2 linked regions of the Homo sapiens genome follow. The protein of the gene in region 1 purifies or fractionates together with the protein of each later gene. This does not show direct contact. Each region holds a gene or a part of one and is shown in the gene's direction. Other genes may lie near its edges.

Evidence for each region.
Region 2: the proteins of EPS8L2 (region 1) and ABI1 purify together in Homo sapiens (affinity purification with western blotting; 2 studies listed by BioGRID, with this or other methods). This does not show direct contact.

What each region holds. Positions count from the first base shown.
Region 1 is NC_000011.10:709,231-712,730, forward strand, and holds part of EPS8L2 (epidermal growth factor receptor kinase substrate 8-like protein 2), read left to right. Parts: intron 1-99; 5' UTR 100-177; coding exon 178-221; intron 222-322; coding exon 323-378; intron 379-1,191; coding exon 1,192-1,256; intron 1,257-3,500. UniProt on the Homo sapiens protein: Stimulates guanine exchange activity of SOS1. May play a role in membrane ruffling and remodeling of the actin cytoskeleton. In the cochlea, is required for stereocilia maintenance in adult hair cells.
Region 2 is NC_000010.11:26,770,459-26,773,958, reverse strand, and holds part of ABI1 (abl interactor 1), read left to right. Parts: intron 1-2,869; coding exon 2,870-2,884; intron 2,885-3,500. UniProt on the Homo sapiens protein: May act in negative regulation of cell growth and transformation by interacting with nonreceptor tyrosine kinases ABL1 and/or ABL2. May play a role in regulation of EGF-induced Erk pathway activation. Involved in cytoskeletal reorganization and EGFR signaling.

The sequences.
Region 1 (3,500 bases):
CCCACCCAGGCCAGGCCAGTCAGGGATCTGGCCCAGGGAAGGAGGGGAGGAACCAGCCAGGCCGGAGGAAGTGTCAGCGCAGCCCTTCTGTCCACCCAGGTGTGGGACAGGCACTGGCCTCAGACCGGGGCCACACTGAGGTCTGCCCTTCTCCCGCTGGCCGCCACCCAAGACACCATGAGCCAGTCCGGGGCCGTGAGCTGCTGCCCGGGTGCCACCAAGTGAGCCCTCCCACCCATCCCGAATACCCCACCCTCACCCTCTGAACAGTCCCCAGGGAGGGGTGCAGTTTGGCCCTGCCCTGACAGCCCCTCCCCTGCAGTGGCAGCCTGGGCCGGTCCGACGGTGTGGCCAAGATGAGCCCCAAGGACCTGTTTGGTGAGTGAGGTTTGAGAACGGGCTGGACGTCACAGGGGAGAAATGGGCACTGCATCCAGGTGGGGGACAGCTGCTCCTGCCCCACAGCTGTGCCTGGTCTGGCCCAGGGGATCTCCGGGTGCCCAGGGAGGCCTCTGGACCCTAATCAACCTTCCGAAAGCTCCTGGCCACTGGATCCCCTCCCCCACACCCGTAAGGGGAGAGGCCTTTACTAATAATTCAGGGAGCATCAATATTGATTCCGCTGCACTCATTGCTGTAACCTGATCACAGCGAGGTTCAGGCAGGATAAGCCGCCAGGTGTCTGCTCCAGGAGGGGGGCCTGGCCAGCCCCCACCTCCCCCCACTCTGCCCTTCCCCAGAGACGACCCTGCCCTCTCGCTAGCTAGATGCACCCTTCACTTATGTCTTTGGACAAGGTGCCTAGTCTGGAAAGCGAGAAGACCTGGGAGGGCAGGGAGAGTGAAGCTGGCAGCTCTCAGAGTGGGAAGAAGCCGGGCTGGGACCCCCTTCCTGTCCCCTCACCCTCCGGGACAGAAACCCCCCGGGCACAGGCTGCTGGTCCCCACTCCACTCAGAGCAAGCCCATCGCCTTCTCCGAGCTGCGTCCTTCTCCAAGGGGGCTTCCCTGGAGGGAGGGAGGGGGCTTCCTGCAGGTCCTGATTTCACACCCACATCCTTCCTGGTGGCCAAGAGGTCCACGGAGCAGCCTCCCTCCGCTTGACTCCACCTTCCCTTGTGGGTCCAGTCCCAACTGGACGGGAGGCTGTGGGTCCTGCCCGTCGGGGGAGTGACTGGTGTCTCCCGGTTCAGAGCAGAGGAAGAAGTATTCCAACTCCAACGTCATCATGCACGAGACCTCGCAGTACCACGTCCAGGTAAGGCCCCGCCCCCAGGTAGGCTCCGCCCCCAGGGAGCACCCTCAGGACATGGCTGTCCTCAGGTTCTCGTCTCCACAAAAAATAAAATAATTAGACGGGCATGGTGGTGCCGGCCTGTAGGCCCTGCTACTGGGGAGGCTGAGGCGAGGGGGTCACTTGAGCCCGGGAGGCGGAGGCTGTAGTGAGCCAAGATCGCACCACTGCACTCCAGCCTGGGCACCTGGGTGACAGAGCTAGACCCTGTCTCAAAACGAAAGAGAGAAAGAGAGAAAGAGAGAAAGGGAGGAAGGGAGGAAGGGAGGAAAGCTCCAGGGAGAGTGGTCAGCCCAGCTTCTGACACCCACGGGGCCGGGGGAGGCCAGAGCCAGAACTGCCCACACTGTCCCGGGCTCAGCCACGGGGCCGGGGAAAGCGCCCCTCTGGTTCCAGTCCTGGGAACTCGCGGCCTGGGGGGTGAGGCAGCCCAGGGTGTGCCGGGAAAACACTGTGGCTGCTGCCCAGCCCTGGATGGGAAGAGCCCCTGGAGGAGATGATCATCCTGGCCCCAAAACGAGGAACTGTATCGGGAGGGAGCAGGCAGAACAAAGACGCCCTTGATGGGGGATTCAGGGAGGCCCGGGCTGCTTCTCAGGGCTCAGACGGGGCTGCCTGCACGCGCCGGACCAGCCGCCAGCCCTGAGGGCTTTTCTGTTCTCCTAGGTCAGTTTCATTGACACGGAGAACTCAGGAAATGTTTTTTTGGGGGGTTTTGTGTGCGTGTGTGCGTGTGTGCGTGCGTGCGTGTGTGTGTGTGTGTGTGTGTCTTTTTTTCTTCCTTTCTTTCTCTCTCTCTCTGTCTCTCTCTTTTCTTTTCTTTCTTTCATTTTGAGACAGGGTCTAGCTCTGTCACCCAGGTGCCCAGGCTGGAGTGCAGTGGTGCGATCTTGGCTCACTACAGCCTCCGCCTCCTGGACTCAAGTGATCCCCTCACCTCAGCCTCCCCAGTAGCTGGGCCTACAGGCTGGCCCCACCATGCCCATCTAATTATTTTATTTTTTTGTGGAGATGGAAGTCTCCCTATGTTGCCCAGGCTGGTCTCAAACTCCTAGGCTCAAGCAATCCTCCCCCCTCCTAGCCAGGCCTGGTAGTGTGAGCTCGTAGTCCAGCTACTTGGGAGGCTCAGGCAGGAGGATCCCACCACGGCCCTCCAGCAGCCTGGGCAACAGAGTCTTAGGCCAGGCGCGGTGGCTCACGCCTGTAATCCCAGCACTTTGGGAGGCTGAGGTGAGTGGATCATCTGAGGTTAGGAGTTTGAGACCAGCCTGACCAACATGGCAAAACCTCATGTCTACTGAAAATACAAAATTAGCCAGGCGTCGTGGTGCATACCTATAATCCCAGCTACTCGGGAGGCTGAGGCAGGAGAATCACTGGAACCCAGGAGGCGGAGGTTGCAGTGAGCCGAGATCACACCACTGCACTCCAGCATGGGCAACAGAGCGAGACTCCATCTCAAAAAAGAGAAAAAAAAAAGGGACCAGGCGCGGTTGTTCATACCTGTAATCCCAGCACTTTGGGAGGCCGAGGCGGGTGGATCACCTGACGTCAGGAGTTCGAGACCAGCCTGACCAACATGGTGAAACCCCATCTCTACTAAAACTACAAAACTTAGCTGGACGTGGTGGTGGGAGCCTGTAGTCCCAGCTACTTGGGAAGCTGAGACAGGAGAATCACTAGAACCCGGGAAATGGAGGTTGCAGTGAGCCGGGATTGCGCCACTGCACTCCAGCCTGGGGGACAGGGCGAGACTCCATCTCAAAAGGAAAAAAAAAAAGGCCCCTGCGCCTGGGTACGAGCTGGGCTCCCGGTTGTGGTCCAAGCCTGGGTGCGAGCTGGGCTCCCGGTTGTGGTCCAAGCCTGGGTGCGAGCTGGGCTCCCGGTTGTCGTCCAAGCCTGGGTGCGAGCTGGGCTCCCGGTTGTCGTCCAAGCCTGGGTGCGAGCTGGGCTCCCGGTTGTCGTCCAAGCCTGGGTGCGAGCTGGGCTTCCGGTTGTGGTCCAAGCCTACAGGACTAGGAAAAGGAGGGAGGGTGAGGGAGCCTGGAGCTGGGTCCTCCTGCAGGACCAGTCCTTTCTGCCACAAACAGCCCTGGCTGGGGGCCCAAAATGCCCCCTGGTTCCCCCTTGCTGTCCTCCACACCTGCAGAGGTGAGACAGGTCACTACTCTTTGAGCCTCAGTTTCCTCGTCTGTACAATGGGTCCAA
Region 2 (3,500 bases), on another chromosome or scaffold:
TGATCTAGGAGTTGTTAGATTTTATTATTGGTCTTAAAAGATAAGCTTAGATGTGTTACTTTTTTTGGAGTTTTAGTTTACAGTGATTCATGAATCGGGCAGCTTCAGACCACAGGAGACATGAAGCAGGTAGAAGTTCAAGAAAGCAAGACAAGCAAAATATTTGATTGGTTAGAAGTTAATTGTGGTTTCTGATTAGTAAAGTTCCTAGTTAGAGGTTAGTTGGAGGTTTCTGATTAAGTTTCTTTTAATTGTGTTTTGGTTTGCCTAAGTAGGAACCCAGAATGCTGGAGCCGTCTCAGCCTAATGGTCTCAGCCTAATGGCTTTCTGATTAATTTTTTTAAAACAGTGTAGAAACTAAAGCTTTATAATGTTTACATAGGAAGATTTTTTTTTAATTTTTATTTTATAAAGCAGAGGAGTGAGTTAAGAATCATTTCAAAGAAAGAATTGGCCTTGGCTGGGTGCAGTGGCTCATGCCTGTAATCTTGGCACTTTGGTAGGCTCAGGTGGGAGGATCACTTGAGGCCAGGAGTTCGAGACCAGCCTGGCCAACATGGTGAAACCCCGTCTCCTAAAAATACAAAATTTAGCCAAGCATGGTGGCACACAGTTTTAATCCCAGCTACTTGGGAGGCTGAGGCAGGAGACTCGCTTGAACCCGGGAGGCAGAGGTTGCAGTGAGCCAAGATTGAGCCACTGCACTCCATCCTGGGCAACAGAGCCAGCAAAAAAAAAAAAAGAATTAGCATTAGACATTTAGTGCCTATGACATACAAAACTATGATGTACTTAGAAGATAGGGAGGAATCAAAGGGAATTTCAAACAGATTCCAGGCAAATGGTAAAATTACTCATCCATAAAGGTAAATGTTAAGGAAACAAAGTGAGATTTTTTTAAAAAGAGACAGGGTCTCACTGAAGTGCAATAGCTCAATCACAGCTCACAACTTTCTAGGCTCAAGTGATCCTCCCTCCTCAGCCATCCAAGTAGCTGGGACTACAGGTGTGCGCCACTATGCCTGGCTAATTTTTTATTTTTTTTTTTCAAGAGAAGGGGTTTCGCCTTGTTGCCCAGGCTGGTCTCAAACTCTTGGGCTCAAGCAGTCCACCTGCCTTGGCCTCCCAAAGTGTTGGGAGTTACAGGTGTGAGCCACCGTGCCTAGCCTGAAATGAGATCTTAAGGAAATAAAAAAGTTTCATTTTGGATATATTTTGGGGATATTTAAATAAAAAATTTTATAGATTTCTAACAAAAATATTAGTATTTTGAGGTGTAAGATGTAGAGGTTATTTCCTACTAACACTTGCCAACATTGACACATCTGCATGTCTAATAACACTTAATAGAGGAGGCCGAACTTCATAAGAGGTTAAAGCTTATACCATTGCATAGTAGCACAGAGTTCAAGTAGAATTTTCATTCCCAATCTAATTCTTCTTTTATTCTTTCCATTTGGGACCAGCTTATACTTGAATGCTAATTTTTTTGTTTCTTATCCACTTGAAATGACAAATGAAGGAAGATATGTGGACATATTTAGAATATTTTCTTGGTTATTTTAGGATAGTATTTAGTATTATGTATATACATTATAAGATATACATTGCTATGTAAGTATATACTATACATGTATAGTATATATCATAATACAGATACTGAAGTATACATTAGTGTATTTTATCTTCAAGGATCCTAATAATGTTATACTCAAAATTTATTCTCTAGATGTGAAATGTCATGGTTAGGTAGGGTACCAGATGTTGTTTCCAGATAGAAGTAAGCAGTATCATTTTAAACAAATATTGAAGTGTACCAAATTTCTCGCACAGTTTCTATAAATGAGAATGTATCCAAAAGACACCAAATCTCTCCTTTGGATGATTTCCTTTGATACTGCCTTGTGGCCACCTGAAAAATGGTAGTTACTTGTTGAGAATGTCAGATGTTATTTAAAAAAAAAAAAAGCTTGAAGCCCCCAAATCTGTAAAAAATTAGACTCTAAAACCTGAAGATATTTTTTTTTAGTGGCATTGTACAAGTAGTGATGCTTTAGGACTACACATTGTTTCATGTTGTGTAGGCTAGTCAGCTTTAATAGAAGTAGCCTTTAGGATCAAAACAACTTTTCTTCAACTTTGAATTTTGACTTAACTGGCTCAGATGAAAACTTAGAACTAAAGCTACTTAGAACTTCCTATTAGTGTTGGCCTGCACAGGATTGGGGTTCAGAAGCTAGGAATGAGAGAGTTTTCCAGACCCTGTTTGTTTATTTCTTAGTTAGAATCTGGCTAAGTTATCACTGTGCATGATGAATTTGTTTTTAAACATCGAGATACTAGGTCCTTTTTTCATTTTTGGAAGCAATCTGTGGTTTTGAATTTTAATGTTTGCAGTTTATCACTTTTTAAACTATACTACCATTGAAGTAATGAATACTCATACTTGGACATTCATTATCCAGTAAAGTGTTAGGTCTCATGCACCGATATGTTAAAATAGCTTCACATCTAATGTGTTATGGTGTTTGTATTTAAATGAGCGTATTTTTAAAATCATCTGTTACTCGGTTGGATTAGTTCCATAGGACAAAATACTGACTTAAAAAATCATTGAGCCTGCATGAGATTGGAATAATTAAGTGGTGGTTTCCTTATGAATATAATTCTTTTGAAAAATACATGAAACACATGAGTATTTCCCCAGTACGTATGGATCTCTTTTTCTTTACAAAGTAGTTGAAACATGGCTGGAAAAAAGCTTATTAACATGAATTGAGTAACTGTAAATGTAAACCTGTCCTATCGGATATAACTTACCTAGCATTAATGTCTACTTTTTCCCCCCCTTTTTTTGCCAACGTAAAGTGGCTAAAAGCCAAGGTAAGAGCCATTACTTATCATTTGATCCACAGTATTTCCTCTGTATTGATAGAGGCTGCAGAGCCACTAAAATTTGAAAACTCTTCTTATGTCTGTCTGCTTTTCCCTGTAGGATTTATGTAGATTATTTAATACTCAAGTTCAGTTCAAATAAGCAACATTTAGCTTGGCTGTGTTAATATATCAATGATATATTGACATCTGTGTTTATATAGGAACATTAATTTTGCTAACATTTATTGCTTTGCTCATTTTTCGATAGTTGCCTTGCTTTCATTGACTTACAATTAGGAGGTTTCCCAGACATCATATGTGACTTTGTTACTGAATTGTTAGGATGAAGATGATTTTTCAGATGCGTATTTGAGCAAATTGACAAGTAAGATCTATAGTTTGTGTTCATGCACACATTTCAAAAATTTTAGGAAACCCAGTGTTTGAATGCAGATAAGTTTGATCTCAGTGAACATGTTTAACAATAAAATAAGATATTAAATCCAGTCATCTCACCTGTATTTGGCTACAATGTGATATAAATGGCATAAAATAATAGGAAGACCAAGTGCAAGTGGTTCCTTGACTTTTTAAACTGTAGTACCAAAGTCTTTATTCAAAC